Linked DNA regions of Homo sapiens: region 1 is linked to region 2. The links come from fine-mapping of genetic effects on gene expression. Tissue or cell type: whole blood. Region 2 holds a variant in brackets; the other region holds the start of a gene. All regions are shown on one strand. Distances are from middle to middle.

Region 1 (8,104 bases), 77 kb before region 2:
ACCAGCAGCAGCTGGAGGGAGGTGTGGGCAGGACTCAGGACAAGCAAGGCAAGGGTAACAGTAGACTGTTACCAATATACTATTAATTGGTCTTCTCTTACTCTTCACTTTCCTTGGCTAGAGTTTTACTCTTAACTGGGTCCTAAATATGATCTGTGAGCATCTAGATTATTACTCATTCATGAAATTTGAGTTGGAGTAGTCGCTGGGTGTATATAAGGTCCTTCCAGAGCCAAAACATGATTCCAAGCCATGATTCTTGTTTTCAGAGTTTATAATGTTTCCAGCCCAAATTTCTCTTCTTAGCTCCGGAAGCATATTTTCAACTGCCTCATAGACATTTCTGAATGTCCCACAGGCAGTTCAAAATCAACACATAGCTACTACTCTCCCGATCTCATCCACTCACCCAGTTATCCTCCTCTATTTCCTATTTCATTTATCAGTAGCTCCAATCACTGTCACCCGCCCCCACTCAGAACCTCCGAAATCATTTTGGTCTTCTTCCTCTCCATCACCTCTCCCATCCAGAATTAACTATGCCTTCTAAATCTTTCTCAGATTGCTCCCTTCTTCTCTTCCTTATTTCTTCTTCTTTTTTTTTTTTTTTTTTTTTGAGACGGAGTCTGGCTCTGTCGCCCAGGCTGGAGTGCAGTGGCGCGATCTCAGCTCACTGCAAGCTCCGCCTCCCGGGTTCACGCCATTCTCCTACCTCAGCCTCATGAGTAGCTGGGATTATAGGCGCCCGCCACCACGCCCGACTAATTTTTTTGTATTTTTAGTAGAGACGAGGTTTCACCGGATTAGCCAGGATGGTCTCAGTCTCCTGACCTCGTGATCCACCCGCCTCGGCCTCCCAAAGTGCTGGGATTACAGGCTTGAGCCACCGCGCCCGGCTTTCTCTTCCTTATTTCAAACTTCATTTCTCATCTGAAGGATTGCAAGAGCCGCCTCACCCATCTTCCAGCTTCAAAACCTCTCCTAGTTCAAATTCATTCCTTACACTTTCAGTCATCTTTCCAAAAATATAAATGTAACCTAACTCCTGTTTTAAAACTTTCAATGGCTCCTCCATTCACAAAAACAAAAATTCAAAATCGCTCAGAATTAACTTCAGGTCTCAGCTCAAAGGTCAGTTCCTCTGAAAAGCCTTCTCTATCTGAAGTTGGCCTCCACCACAACTCTAATGCCTGGTTTATTAATGCCGCTTATCACCATCTATAATTCCTTTGTCTGTTTATGGAGTCATTATATGATCTCCCATCTCCCCCTACTTCCTTTATTTTTGAGACATGGTCTCATTCTGTCACCCAGGCTGGAGCGCAGTGGCATGATCTTGGCTCACTACAGCCTTGACTTCCTGGGCTCAGGTGATTCTCCCACCGCAGCCTTCAGAATAGAGGACACAGGTGTGCACCACTATGCCCCTTATCTTCTGCCTCTCACTTAACTTTGCAGCTTTATTTTCACCACTCCTCACTAAATATTTTGTGGTTTAGTCACTTCAAAAGTTTCCCTTTCTCCAAATAAATTATTTGCACGTTTTAATTTTTATTTATTTATTTATTTATTTCTGAGGCAGAGTTTTGGTCTTGTTGCCCGGGCTGGAGTGCAATGGCACAATCTTGGTCCACTGCAACATGTGCCTCCTGGGTTCAAGCGATTCTCCTGCCTCAGCTTTTGAGTAGCTGGGATTACAGGCGCCCACCACTATGCCCGACTAATTTTTGTATTTTTAGTAGAGATGGGGTTTCAACATGTTTGCCAGGCTGATCTCCAACTCCTGACCTCAAGTGATCTTCCAACCTCAGCCTCCCAAAGTGTTGGGATTACAGGCGTGAGCCACTGCGCCCGGCCTCATTTTATTTTTAAAAATTGTTCTCTTTACCTGAGATGCCCTTCTACTCCTTCTGTCCACTTACCAAACCCTAACATATCAGGACGTGTCTGAAGTGACCTCTTACATGAAGTCTACCTTGACTCCATCCTCAATCCTCAATATTGTTCCTTTTAAATGCCTTAGGCAAGTAGCGTGATATCTAGCACATTCTAGGTACTAAATATTCATCAGCTGTGCTATCTAGCTGCCTCATTCTATGGAAGGCTGAAACAAAAATAGTTTGAAGCAATTATAGACCAAAAGCATGGATGTTTAGCGTCCCTCTCTTCACTGCCTTCTGAGATGCCTGGCAGAGGACAACATAAGCTGAAAAAGTCCCCATTCTTTTATTCATAAAGTACATCGTTAGTGCATTTTTTTTTTTTTTTTTTGAACAATGTCTTGCTCTGTTGCCAAGCTAGAGTGCAATGGCATGATCAGGGCTCACTGCAGTCTCAACTTCCTTGCCTCAGGTGATCCTCCCAACCTCAGCCTCCCAAGTAGCTGGGACTACAGGTGTGTGCCACCAAGGCCAGCTAATTTTTTTGATTTTTTTTTTTAGTAGAGACAACGACTTGCCACGTTGCCCAGGGTGGCCTAGAACTCCCGAGCTCAAGGAATCCTCTGCCTCCCAAAGTGCTGGGATTACAGGTGTGAGTGAGCCACTGTGCCAGGCCCCAGGGCATATCTTTACAAGCTGCTTTGAAGTCCATAGCCTTAATACATTATTGAATTATCTGGATCTCAGATTTTCAGTCTTTTAGGGACAACTATGCTACTGGGTCTCCAGCCAAAGCCACCTTGATGACAAGAGGAAAAGAGACTAAATGGAAGAAATGACAATCAAATATAAGTCTGTTTGCAGATCAGCACTATTTAATGGAAATGAAGGCCACATATATAACTTAAAATTTTCTAGTGGTCACATTTAAAAAAACAGGTAAAATTAATTTTAATAGTATATTTTCTTTTTTTTTTTTTTGAGACAGGATCTCGTTCTGTCAACGCAGGCTGGAGTGCAGTAGTGAGATGACGACTCACGGCAGCCTCCACCTCCCACTCCAGGGATCCTCCTACCTCAGTCTCCGGAGTAACTGGGACCACAGGCAGGAACTACCATGCCCAGCTAATTTTTTTTTCTTTTTTCTTTTTTTTTTTTTTTTTTTAACTTTTTGTATAGACGGGGGTTTCCCTATATTGCCCAGGCTGGTCTCTAACTCCTGCCCAAGCGATCCTCCCACCTCAGCCTCCTAAAGTGCTGGATCACAGGTGTGAGACACCGTGCCCGGCTTACATTTTCTTTACTGCAATATATCCAAAATATTTCAACGTGCAATCAATATAAAAAGTGATCAGTGAGGTATTTCACATTCGTCGAACTGACACCCGTGCGTATTTTGCACTTCCAGTGCCTCCTAAACGAACTAGCCTCATTTCAAGTGCTCAGTGGCCCTAAGTGGCCAAGGGGCTACACTAATGGACAGGGCAGGTCTAGGTCCTGTGTTTTTCCCATTCGGAGTCACCAGTCCTACTAGACATTCTGTGAAAAAAGGGAAAGCCTTTGTGAAACTTCCTGAGGACTCACAAATGCACATTATTACATTTAGAGTTTAGAACTTTGGTTAAGGCAGCGTCCTGTATTTGATTCTTTCCCTCTTCCTCTCCGCTAACCCCCTATGTGACACCGTAGAACTTATAATTCGTTCTAATTCGCAGATGGAGGGCATATGAGAGAGGAGGCTCTGCCTCAAACACTTTCTCAAACTTTTGCCGAGGGGTGGCGAGAAGGTAGACTTCCAGGTCCCACCCGATATAGATTAAGGGCTGGAAACACAGTCAAGGGGAAATTATGACCAAGACAACCTTTGCTAAAATGCCAGCGGTGACTGCCATTGATGTTCCTATAAAAGGTCAGCTCTGTCAGGAAGTTCCAGTGCATCATTTGTTCAAAAGTAAAATCAGCCCGTGTTCCAGAATTCGCGGACTGTCGTCAGTCCTAACCTACACATTTATTCGTTCAACAAATATTTCAGCGCCTGGGTCAGGCATCAGGAATACACTGGTGGTTAAAACAGACGGAAAGCTCCATCTGGTGGGACGCAGTCTGGGAGGGAAAGGGAGTCCTGGGGACATGTTTTCGTCGGCTCTAGGCTAAGCACCTCTCGCCGTAGCACACGGGGTCGGCACCGCTGCCCGGCGAAGTACTTGTTACTTTGCAGTCCAGTACGAAGCGGCGGAGTAACCGGTTCCAACCCAAGGCAGCGACTCATGCGAGTCGTTCTAAGCGCCGCGCTGGGGGGTACATACGGTGCACGCGTGGGTGCCTCACCCCCTGGCAGCGCCTCCAGGGACGCTGCTCCGGGAAAGAGCAGCCGCCGCGACCTCAGGCGGCGGGAAAGGTGGGACCTCACAATGCGCCGGAAGCGGTGCCTCGTGGCTTGGGATCTCTCCGGGTTCTTCCTTGCGCCGTCCACGCCGCACTGCCCACGAGGGCGTCCCCGCCCGAGGGACAACTCACCGCCCGGGGCCTCCCTGAGCGTTCCCTTCCACCATCTGACACCCACTGCTAAGTGTGAGAGGACCCAGGGGGTAATTGCCGGGCCGCAGGCGGCCTTAGGAACTCCGCTTCCCGTGAGGCTTCGCGGCGGACGGCGCTGGTGCGCAGGCGCACGCACGGCGTGCGTGGTGGCGTCAGCAGTTCTAGAACGTTGCTGTGGTAGCGCTCGGGCGCCATGTTAGGACGAAGGGGAAGGAGGAGAAGCGCTTAAAGCGGCGGGAGCGGTGCGGGAGAGGGGTTGGACCCAGGGCTGAGGCAGGCCCCCCCCTCCCTCCCGCCTCAGTGGATCATGCCCAGGGCGGCAGCGGCGGCGGTTGCGGGGGGGAAGTGACTGGGCGGTGCCGGCGCCGGAGACGATGCCGTTGTAAGTAATTTGTATTCTGTTTTCTTTCGCTCGCCGGCTGGGCCTTGGGGGGCGTCCGGGAAGGGGAAGAGGTAGGCGGAGAGGGTGGCACGCGAGCCCGACCCTCCCCGCTGGTAGGAGGCAGGCAGGACTGGGGACCTTCCTGTTTCCTCGCTCGCTCGCCGCCGCACTTCCCCCCGTGTGCTGGGTTCCCGCGTCCCCCGACCCTTCCTGGCTGGGTCAGCTGCCGTCGGGCCGGGGGCCTTCCCCTTCCGGAATTGCTGGCGGAACCTCTAACTCGCCCGGCCACTCCAGCTTCTCCGCCCCGTCCACAAAGAAAATCAAAACAACCCGAAAACAAAACATTGCCTGGTGGTGGGGAACCACGACCCTGCTGCACGCGGGATCAGCACTTGGGGTTCGGGCTCGCTCTCGGCGCCCCTCGGGCCCATTCGATGTTGCTTTTCTGTTCCTGGTCTGTCTCAGTTTGCTCACTCTCTTCCTCCCATTTCCAGATGCCTGTCTTGTGCGCCGGAGTTAGCCCCTTTCCACTGACCTTGTCTGAATGTAGGAGCACGAGTTAAAAGCCCAGCTTTGAGCGTTGAGTCCGCCTGCCTCCACCTCCGCCTCCCTAGCATTCACAGGCGGTCGGAGAAGGGGGCACTTCACAGGGTGCCCTCCTCCAAAACGACTTATGTATTGCTTTCCCTGTTTTGTTTTGATGGGGTAACCAGGTTTCATTCTGTTTCCTTCTTTCTCTATCTCTGGTGATACTTTTTTTTTCCTGGTTGTAAGGCTTGAAGCTAGTCTCTTTATGCTTTCTAATGCCACTGCGCCTTTTTCTTTTCTTGGTGGGTTTTTAAAAAGTTTTTTTCTCCCCTCCCCCTTTCTGATAATGAGATATAATTTGGCAGCTCATTGCCAGTAGATTACGGATTTTTTTTTTCCTGCAAATATACAGCATTGTAGAGGCCTAAATAGTGAGACTGCATTTCTTCCATTTTTGAATATTGAAGCGTAAGAGTGCCTCTTTGAGACCAGGGACCGAGTTTTCTTCATCTTAGTAGCCTCAAAACGCAACATGTAATTGACACTCAAAGTTTTGGTTAAATTCAGGATAAAGATTTTTGTGGTTTCTAGACATCGAATGTAGTAACTCAGGTCTATTTTTTTTTTGTAAGTAAGGATAATTTCTTTAGCACATAATCACCGATTGTAGTTTTACAATTATATATGTGTGTGAATGTGTTTCTTTACAGGTGAGACTCTAACTTTGGCACAGACCTTAATGACTTCTATCGCAATTTATGTATTTTAAAAGGATTTTCCATGGCTCCCACCCACCCCCTTAGGTTATTAAGAAGTCTATCACATTACTTCTGTGATGAAAACGTTTGTTAGACTTAACTAACTATACAGGTCTAAAATCTTGGAATCTGCATGGTTTCTGTTTATTGATTTTTCCCTTTCATAGAATAAGAGACCCTAGGAGAACTGAGTCTAAGCAAGATTGTTGTGGTGTTTCTCAGTTCAATAGGAGATAAATGTTTGCAGTGATGTCGTGATGACTGCGTTATTAAGTTAACATTTTGCTGTCTTTGAAAAGGGACTTCTTTTTCTGATAATCATACCAGCATTAAAAATGATAGATGTAAACCTTAAAAGGCTTCAATGAAGAAATAACATTAAGTAATTTGTGTCTTATTTCTAGGAATTAAAAGTACTTTTATACCTACTTTCCCCCAACATTCTTTGAAGAGGGAAGGTATACATTTCTGTGAAAGACCTTAGGTATTTCAAATTCTTCGCGAGTTAGTTCAAGTGTGTAAAATGGAAGACGGGGCCAGGCGCGGTGGTTCACGCCTGTAATCCCAGCACTTTGGGAGGCCCAGGCAGGTAAATCGCTTGAGGCCAGGAGTTTGAGATCAGCCTGGGCAACATGGCGAAACTTCATCTCAACAAAAAACACAAGTTAGCTGGGCGTGGTGGCTCATGCCTGTAATCCCAGCTACTTGGGAGGTTGAGGTGGGAGGACTGCTTGAGCCCAGGAGGCTGAGGCTGCAGTGAGCCTTGATCATGCCACTGCGTTCCAGCCTGGGTGACAGAGCGAGACTCAAAAAGTAAGTATACGATAATTACTGTAGTAAACAATAGAGAGACCAAAGAATGCCTAGTTAAAGAAAAATAGGGCTTCTTCCTCATTAAGTTGCTTTGTTTTTCATGTACTGCTGTCACACTGTCATAAATGTTGTTTTTTTGATGTGTTGGATTGTGATTTCCCGGCTATATTGTGTTTGGCTTTCATTTTTGGTATACCTGTCCTAATGTTAAATTTGGATGGGTGAGTGGCATTGGGGCATGGACCCTAGGTGAGTTGTCGGAATGAATTTAAATCAAAATTATCGAAATTTAGGATATTACAGAACATTTTGATCAAGTGTCCATATTTTGTCTAAATTTCATATGTAGCTACAAACATACTTTTGGAAAGATTATAGTCTGATTTAAGAGTCATGGTGGTGAAGCTTCTGAAAGTTTTGATAGTCTTTGGATCCATTAAACAGTTTCTCACCTAGTCATTATTGACATTTATGCCAGATTCATTCCTTGCAGGTGCCTGTCCTGTGTATTGTAGTTTAACAGCAGCCTTAGCTTCCACCTACTGGATTCCGGGAGCTCCACCCCTCCATTTCCCCAGTAATGACAATCAAAAATGTCTCCAGATATTACCAGATGTGCCCTGGGGTGCAAAATCTGGTTGAGAACCACGGCATTAACGAAAAGTGTGATGCCCTTATGGAAACTAGATGTATTTCTGCCCTACTCTGTGTTGGTCAGATATTTTTGGCATCAGCTCAGTTCTGAGTATCACACATATGATAAAAAGGTGTGAAGGAGAGTAACCAGTATCAGTAGCATTTATGCCACATGCATAGAATGTTGTCAAAGTTACCAAAAAGAGTTACTGCAAGGTTTAGGCGAGACAATAGCAAAAATGTTTTCGGGGGCTGCACAAAAAAGAGGGAATTGTAGTAGTTTTACATCGCCATAACAAGCAGAACTGGTACCTGCTGGTGGATGGTCTGTGCTTCCCAGAGCGGGATCTGTGGATGCTTGGGGAGGGGGACCACTGAGATCTTTCAGAGGGTACATAATGTTCAAACTATTTTCATGTTATTGAGATGTTTTGTCTTTCAACATTTGTACTTAACGGTGCAAAAGCAGTGGTGGAAAATGCTGTATCCATCATAGGAACAATCAAGGCAGAGAACCGGTATTGTATATAGTCATTTCCTTCCTTCCTTCCTTGCTTGATTCCTTCCTT
Region 2 (8,104 bases):
GTTGGAAGAAAAAGCCCTGGCCTTCAGGAAGGACAAATCTGATCCTTCTCCAGGGCCTGATGACCCTGGGTAAGCTACTTAACGCCTTCCCCCAGTTTCTGAGGAAAATGTTAAGTTTTTCTTTAGATCTTTCTTATTGAAGCTTTATGTGGATTAGCAAGCAGATAGGGCATGTTTAAGCAATCAGACTTTTTTTTTTTCAGTACTAGGTTAAACCTAGTTTGAATTAGTCAGAGGGCAGTCACAAAGGCAGACTGCAAAGGAACATCTGGCAAACCACCCCTGCTAATTCTCAAAGCTGTCTTCCTGCTATGAAATTTGGGCAGGACCAGAGTAGGGAGAAAAAAGTGGAGTCAGGCAAAGCCCTGTTTAAAAAAAAAATTAGTGTGAGTTTGGGGCAGACTGACCTTTTCATTAAAAAACGTTCTCTCCCTTAGTGCCAAGACAAATGCAGTGCGTAGCTTCTGAGGAGACAGTGAGCATGCCTGCCTGCTTCTGGCAAGGGTTCAAGTGCAGTGAGTGGGTCTGGGAAAAATTCCTGACAGTAGCTGCCTTTTATTGAGTATATCTACTAGGTGTTAAGTGGTAGGGCCAGTTGTTACAGCAACCTATAAGATTTGACATATTCATTGGTGTCACCATTTACAGATGAGGAAACAGGTTTATTTTGGCAGAGTATCTTGCCCAGGGTCACACAGTAAATTGGATTTGAGCCTGGTTCTGTTTGACTCTAAAACTTAATCCTGAAATATGACCCTGTGTTTTCCCACTCAACAACGTTGCCTTAGTATCTCTTTGGATATTATCGTTGAGAAGGCAAGGGTAATTAGCTCTATTTTGCATATGCCTCTAGTTTTAGAACAGCTAAAATACATTGCTGCTCTTTGGATGCCCTTAAAAAGCTGGCCTGCTGGAGGTGAGGAGGGGGAGAGATTTGCAAAGAGCGACAGTGAACAGCTGGGCTCTGATGAGACTGGTGTACTCTATTTACTAGTACTGGAAGGTTTGGATTCTGACTAGTTTGGGGTGAACTGACCTGTTCACACTCAAGTCACTTAATAGCTTTGACTAAACTTTGGATGTTTAAGTAATGTTACATATCGGTTGGGATGGTTTCTCCTTGAGAAGTTTTGCATCTTAGAATGTTTTTCTTTTTAAGCCAATTAAAACAGAAGACCTCCTAAAAGGAAAGCTAAAAATCCTTAAAAGTGCTTAAGACTAGAGTGAATGAAACCTCAGCAGAGATGCCTTAGAGGTTGTTGAGGTGCTTTACCTATCATATCTGAAGGCATTAATTACACTTGACAAAGTTTTATTAAAAACAGAAAAGGCAGAGGCACTTTTAGAGGAACTGGATGAAAACAATACTTAATGTTTTAAAAAAAAGAAAAATTGGCATCTAAAAATGAATTTTTTGTGGGGAGGGCTTCATTATGTTGTATATAAAATGTGAATGTGGTAAATGTCTAAAATGTGAATTGTGGGTGAATATGTCACTGGGCAAATTGATTATTAGGTGAATTGGTTTTAGGCAAATTTGATGTTATCTTGAATTTGTTAATGTTGATTTTTTCTAATTATAGTCATAATTCATATTCATTGTAGTCAAAATTCATATTCATTGTAATACTTAAAAAATACAGAAAAGCATAAAGAAGAAACTTCACCCATAATCCTTAAAAAAAAAAAAAAAGCATACTTAAGGTCATACTAGGTAAGTAATTTTATATCAGGCATTTTCCCTGGAGATTGTCACGGCTGTTGAATAGGTAAAGCAAAGAGCCCAAGCATATCATGTGTGTGTCTCCACAAGCTGGGGACCTACGCTTTGGATTGAAGCCTGAGGAGAAATGTGGGGGAGCCTGGACCTAGGAGGGGTATGGAGAGGGAACCAGGCTGTATAGTGGAGAAAGACTCCCTGGTTTGCCAGGTGAGGGTTGAATCAGGGAGGCTCACAACAATGGCCGGCTTTAGCTTTAAGTGAATACCCCTATCAGAAAGTTAGAAAAAAAACAAACTCGTGTAGTTCAATGGGCATGGTTTTGCCTCCTGTGAGGAGGATGTTCATTCAACAGATATTCGTTGATCCCCTACCATGTACCAGGTGCTGTTACAGTGAGAAGCAAGCAAGGAGAGGGAACTGGGGTTCACTGAGTCCACAGGGTTTAGGCACTTTGGCGCACTCTGAGTGGTGGGCGTCACACTCAGCTGCCGTGACAGCTGCCTGGGGGTAGTTACAGATCAGTGAGACCTGGTAATAAGTTGAACTTGTCTGGTTCTAAAGCCCAAGCTGTTTCCATTTTGGGGCACATTTAACAGTTAAAAAGAGGCCCTAGTTATACATGGGGAACAAAACTGATAATAGCCCCTGTCCTTATGAAAGCTTATAGTTCATAGGAGATACAGATGCCGACAACACAAATGAACTGTAAGTTACTAGTGGGCTCTGAACGGAAATAAGAGTGCTTCTGGAAGGTTAGGAGCACCCTTTCAAACTGGACAAGCTTTGACCTGAAGACTAAGGTGGTGCCGAGTGAGGGAGCAGCATGTTTCTTAAGCAGGAAGGAGCTTGGCAACTGCAGAGGAACAGGAAGGTGCTGGAGTTTTAGAGCTTAGTTGGGTTGAGAGAGATGTAGGTGCCCAGATGTATCACAGTGATAGAATAAGAGGTCCAGAAGTGCTGAGGGAGCATGCAGCTTCCTGGTGGCCTTGGGGAGGATGTGGGAGAGCAGGTGCCATTTGATGGGTAGTTTGGCTGTGATCAGGAAACAGAGCAGAGGAGACAGCATGCTAAGTGGAGTGAAGGGCTTGCACCAGGGCACGGGGCAGGAGAGCATGTCAAGGTCAGAGAACAAAGCAGCCAGCAAAGCTAGTGTGTGACTGGGTGGGGCGGGTGGGGAGCAGTAGGTTAGATGTTACTGCCCTATTGAGAAAGATCTTGAGGCTCAGAGCAGCTCAACATGATTAAGATGTGGTCCAGGTTCTTAGTGGTGGTAGAAGCTAAGTAAAGGAGAACAAAGAGCGCACACACACACAAAGACCCTGGGCTTCCGTCACTTGTGCTTGTACCTGGTCCCATATTCCCATATTGGAGACTTGTACCGTTGCATACTTGCTCTCGCACCTCCCTTCCTTCCAGATCCAGCTTCATGCTGGATAAAAGAAATGTTTACATCCCAAATAGGATGGAGTGGACGGTGCCAGATTTCACACTACCCAGAGGGCTGCACAATTTACTACTTATAAGTTGTTTATTTCTGGCATTTTCCATTGAATATTTTCAGACTGTGGTTGGCTGCAGGTAACTGAAACCACGGAAAGCAGAACCATGGATAAAGGGGATTACTGTACTACAAATTCCAAGGTCCTGATAGAGAAGTCTCTTCATTAGGGAACTAGACCGCTTGCCTTAAAATGCATTTGGCTTGCAAGGCGGGTGCGAGGGAACGATATGTCACAAGCTAGCAGAGGCTGTGGGCAGTGTGCCCTTTACGTTCTGACACGCGTGGGGGCCCACATCTCTGCAGAGTCCTCCCCTTGAAAGCCTTTTAGTCCCTGACATCCATCATTGTGGGGGCTCAGCTTGGCTGAGCTGAATATTTATGAGTCATTATTTAATTAAGCCTTTCATACTTTCATTGATAAATGCAGTCACCCCTTGCCCCATTAGTCCCCACCACCACCTTGCAGCCCACAGCCAACTTCCAGCCCAGGCGCTGCTCCTCATTCTGTTCCTGGCATGCTGTTGACTGCCCTCCAGTGTCTACCACCCACTGGAGAGAAATCAAGGCCGGGATTCCTTTCAGTGCCCCCAGTATGTGGAGGCAAAGAGAGACATTTGCACTGACCATTGGTAGATGCTATAGTTTGACCAAACGGCCCCTATTCCTAGGTGTTTGGCAACTTGTAGCCCAAGTGGAAGACGGGAGAGAACAACCCAACAGGCATCTGGGGAGGTGCCTGTTCTCCTGACGCTGCCTGTCTGTCTGATGGTTCTATTAACAGCCTTCAAGAAGGATGAAGGGGAGGGTACAACAGTGAACAACAAACATCTCAGTCAGGAGAGGAATTTCAAGACGGGGTGGGCCTGGGTGGGAAGAGGAGAAATGAGGACAAAGCTTTGGAAACTTTGCTAGGAAGATGTAATGGGAATGTGGCCCGAGGTGAGGCTCACACACCTGGCCCCTGCGTCGTCAAGAAGCACCGCACAGGAGGTGAGGGTGCTTCTTCCCCACCCGTGGACAACTTGCCTAGCACCTTGGTTTCTGAACTTAAGCCACTTGAGTCCACTTGCAGCAGTACTTGGGGCCCCAGCCTGTCCCTTTCACTGAGAATCTGGGAGTCTGGGCACCTGGGGGTGTGGCAGTCTTCCTGGAGTTGGAGTGCTTTCCCATGGCAGCCTGGCCTGGCATGTCCAGTGACGCACT[G/C]CTCCACATGCTGCCCTCTTCTTCCTGGCTATGCTCTGGGTTAGGCGCCAGAGGGAGCGGGCATCTCTTCCCTGGAACCTGGAGCAGCAGGTAGGAAGGGAGGATGTGAACCGTGTACGGCAAGCTTGTTTATTCATTCAGCAGCACCTCCTGAGCCCCAAGTGCCTGGCATGAGTTCTGGGTGTGTCAATGAGTTAGCCGAAGCCTGTCCCCTCTTCCACTTGCCACGACGTGCTCTTCTGTGTGCGTGGAAGTTCTTGCCCCAGCATCTCACTGCTCACCTCCTGTTGTACTCAGCTGGGTTTCACTCATCCCACAGGATATACCTTAGATATCATCATCTCTGAGAAGTCTTCTGATCCCTTAGGCTGGGTTAGATCTCCACTCCCAAAGCACTCTGTAGCTAAATCTCTTAGCACTTACCATATTGTGGTATTGCCCGAGTTGGGAGCAGCTCTTGCAAAGCTGAGGCCGTGTCTTGATGCATGTCTGTAGCCACAGTGCATGATGTGTAATAGCTGCTTGTCAGTGTCTGTGGAAATTCAGTGAATGAAGGACTTGACCAAGTTCTTCCCGAGGAGCTCCCAGTGTACCAGTGGAATATGAGCTCATGTGTATTAAGACTTCATGGTCTAAAGATTGTGCTAAATGCCTTACGTGGACTATCTCACTGAATCCTCCCAACAATCCTTTGAAGCACGTATTACAGTTCCCATTTTCCAGATGTTGAAACCGAGGCACAGAGAAATACTTGTCCAACGACCCATGGTGCCAATTGCAATGATGGGAATGTTTAAGGGTGATGGGACAGAGAAGAGGGGCACCTGACTGTGTGCTACGCACTGTTTGGTACTATGCACACCTCTCATCTAGTACCCAAAACAGCCCTGCAGGACTGCTTTTGTTACCTGGAACCTAAGAATTCAGAGAAAGTCAGTGACTTGTCCAAGGCCACCAGCTGGGAAGCAGTGGAGCCAAGATTCAAACCCTATGTTCTTAGGCAGACAGACCCCAAAGAGAGGACTCTCGGGTATCATAGCTTGAACGCTAAGGGGGCCCCTCGAGGCAGGAGCTGTGTCTGCCTGTGCTCTCTCCCACTTTACTGGAAAGGGGCTCTGACATGAGAATTCTGTTTTATTTTTGAGACAAGGTCTTGCTCTGGCACCCAGGCTGGAGTGTAGTGGTGCAATCACAGCTCACTGCAGCCTTGACCTCCCGGGCTCAAGTGATCCTCCTACCTCAGCCTCCAGAGTAGCTGGAACCACGGTGCACGGCACCACAGGCCCAGCTAATTTTAAATTTTTTCTTTTGTAGAGACAGGGTCTCTCTTTGTTTCCCAAGCTGGTCTCAAACTTCTGGGACCAAGTGATCCTTCTGCCTTGGCCTCCCAGTGTTGGGGTTATAGGTGTGAGACACCACACCTGGCCTGACATGACAGTCCTGACTGTCATTTGCTGAATAAACCATGATAGGGAGCCCAGCTAATTGGGATGCACTAGTAACTGGACAGTCCTCTCAGATCTCAGGGGCCACTGTCAAAGCCCTTTTCCTGGATTAAGACTCATGGCTGGTTACCCTGAGTCTTCCAGTCTACCACCTCTCTGGCTATGGCAGGTTTTGCAGAATAAAGTGACTGAGGCTTAACAAGTTTGTGAGTGTGGCCAAAGCCAGTGTAGCATAGGACTGGACCAGTGCTGGTGAAGGAAATTAAGCTGTAACTTGTGGGATTTCAAGAAACCAATCTTGGTCTGTAAGTCGTTTTTATAAAAATGAATATGCGATCACTGCCCTAACTCTCGTTTCTTTAAACGGATGCCAAGAGCATTCAAGGGAGAGCAATGCCAAATTTACATTCAGCTTTAACAGTTTGTCCTTCCGAGGAGCACAGGCTGACTTTAGAGTAATTCCTGTGATCATCACAAATGGAGTTGGCATTAAAAAGGGTGAAGGGAAGACTCAGGAAGGAGGACAGACACTCCGTGCTACACGCGAAAGCTTGTTTATCTGGAAGCCTGGCTTGCAGTTCCTGCATCCCTCTGGAACCCAGCCCTGAATCTCTGAACCGAGCAGTAAGTAGAAAAGGCTTCTAGGCTCTGGGAAGAAATGTCACACAGCCCATGCACCAAGGTCACGCCCTGTCCTCTAGGTGCACAGCAAAGGTCTTCGTGGCTGTCTCCTGTGTCATTTGTGGTTAACACTCGACTTATGTGCCGGTTTTCACAACTCACAGCAGATTATCCTAGAGGCCTGTAACTTCAGCTAGCTTCAAGTATAGCAGGTATGACACTAAATGTCATCACATACCTGATCGTTTTTACTCCTCACAGAAAACAGGCCTTGTAAACTGTATTTCACAGATGAGGAAACTAGTTCCCTTAAGAGGTGTCTAGCTTGTAGGCTGCATGTGTCTAGTATAGATAACTGCTGTGCCGACGATTTGCTAATTGCTGTGGGGGGATGGGCACGGGAGAGCTTTTTGGCCTCAGTGGACGTTTTAAGAGATGCACACTTAGAACCACTGGAGCTGTGTCCAGCTAGAGAAACTGTATCCATCGCTACAGACTGGTGAGGTTTTGCACATTTCTCCCAGAAAACCCGAAGGAAGGGGGTTTGGAGAGAGGAGCCAGGAGTGGGGCTCAGAGCAGAGCCGAAAGGAAAGCGCAGGGTGGGATGTGGCTCTGAGCTCTTCCACCCGCCCCGGGGACCTCTGAGATAATACCAACTGCACCCAGTTCCCTAGCCCACACCTGGCAGGTAGCACGTTCACTTCATGACCTTCTTGAATGCGCAGTGCCCCATTCTTTTGAGTTCTTATTACATGTCAAAGGCAAGGACCGTGGCTTCTCTTTTTGTCCACGCGGTACTCACATGGTCTTGATAGGACTGACCTTCTGAGGATCTCCTTGATCTTTCTTTACCTATATAAACAAAAATTAAATTTAAACACAGCTGTATTCGCATATGAACAAAAAACTACCATTAGGTGTTTGTCTCTCAGCAAATTATTTCTCCTCTCTAGGCCTCAGTTTTTTCATCAATAAAATGAGACCATTAGACCGAGGAGGAACTTCTGGCTCCAAAACCCTTTGGGTTCTAAGTCTTCTCTTTGAGAATGTTCTCCACTCCCCCAAACTGATTTGACATAATTTGGTCTCTCCTCCCATTCCAATGGCCTCTTTCCTGCCTAGTCCTTGCCTACCAGCCACGCCCCCTCTGGCATGCCCCACCCACCTTTCTCTGTTTGCTGCTCTGGAAGAGAAGGATCCTGGCTTCTCAGAGCCCTGGTGAATACAGATACTGCCTCGTTTGCATATTAACACTGGTGCCAGTCTGAGCCCAGCTGTGTGCAACGTAAGGTGAAATATAGATTCCCCCAACCTGGCCACAGTGTCTCCACGCGGCTAATGGAAAAGCCTTCGGAGTGGGCCCATGTTGCATATGCATAAGCTTTCCTTTGGCCGTGGATGGGCATTGGGTGCTCTTACTCCCATTTCAACTGTGTCTCTGTGCTTCTTTGGGTTTCCTTCAAGATTAACAGGCCATCTGGGCTAAACAGCTATTTGAAGTGACTTGGCCAGGCCCTGGGCTGGCCTCTTGGGAACTCTGGGACTTGAGTGTTGAACCCGAGCCCCGCCCTCCTGCTCACCCACTCAGCATGGCAGCAGCAGCTTTTATGT

Evidence for each region. PIP is the estimated chance that this variant, and not a neighbour inherited with it, causes the effect.
Region 1: PAPOLA starts here. The variant in region 2 is fine-mapped to the expression of PAPOLA in whole blood (TOPMed, PIP above 0.99). The same link has a PIP of 0.9 or more in aorta and breast.

Annotation. Positions count from the first base shown.
Region 1 is chr14:96,497,801-96,505,904 of GRCh38, forward strand. It overlaps PAPOLA (poly(A) polymerase alpha), which reads left to right and starts at 4,582. Exons shown (of 22, transcript NM_032632.5): 1 at 4,582-4,800. The coding sequence starts at 4,793. PAPOLA-DT (PAPOLA divergent transcript) reads right to left here and starts at 4,526. Exons shown (of 1, transcript NR_122121.1): 1 at 3,848-4,526. RefSeq lists enhancers at 3,287-3,883, 3,884-4,478, 4,396-4,655, 4,479-5,074, 6,230-6,731 and 1 more and silencers at 3,994-4,337, 4,776-4,895.
Region 2 is chr14:96,574,407-96,582,510 of GRCh38, forward strand. No RefSeq gene overlaps it. Among named protein-coding and RNA genes, the nearest start is that of PAPOLA, 76 kb to the left of the region's middle. The variant G/C (reference allele first, on the strand shown) is at 4,428.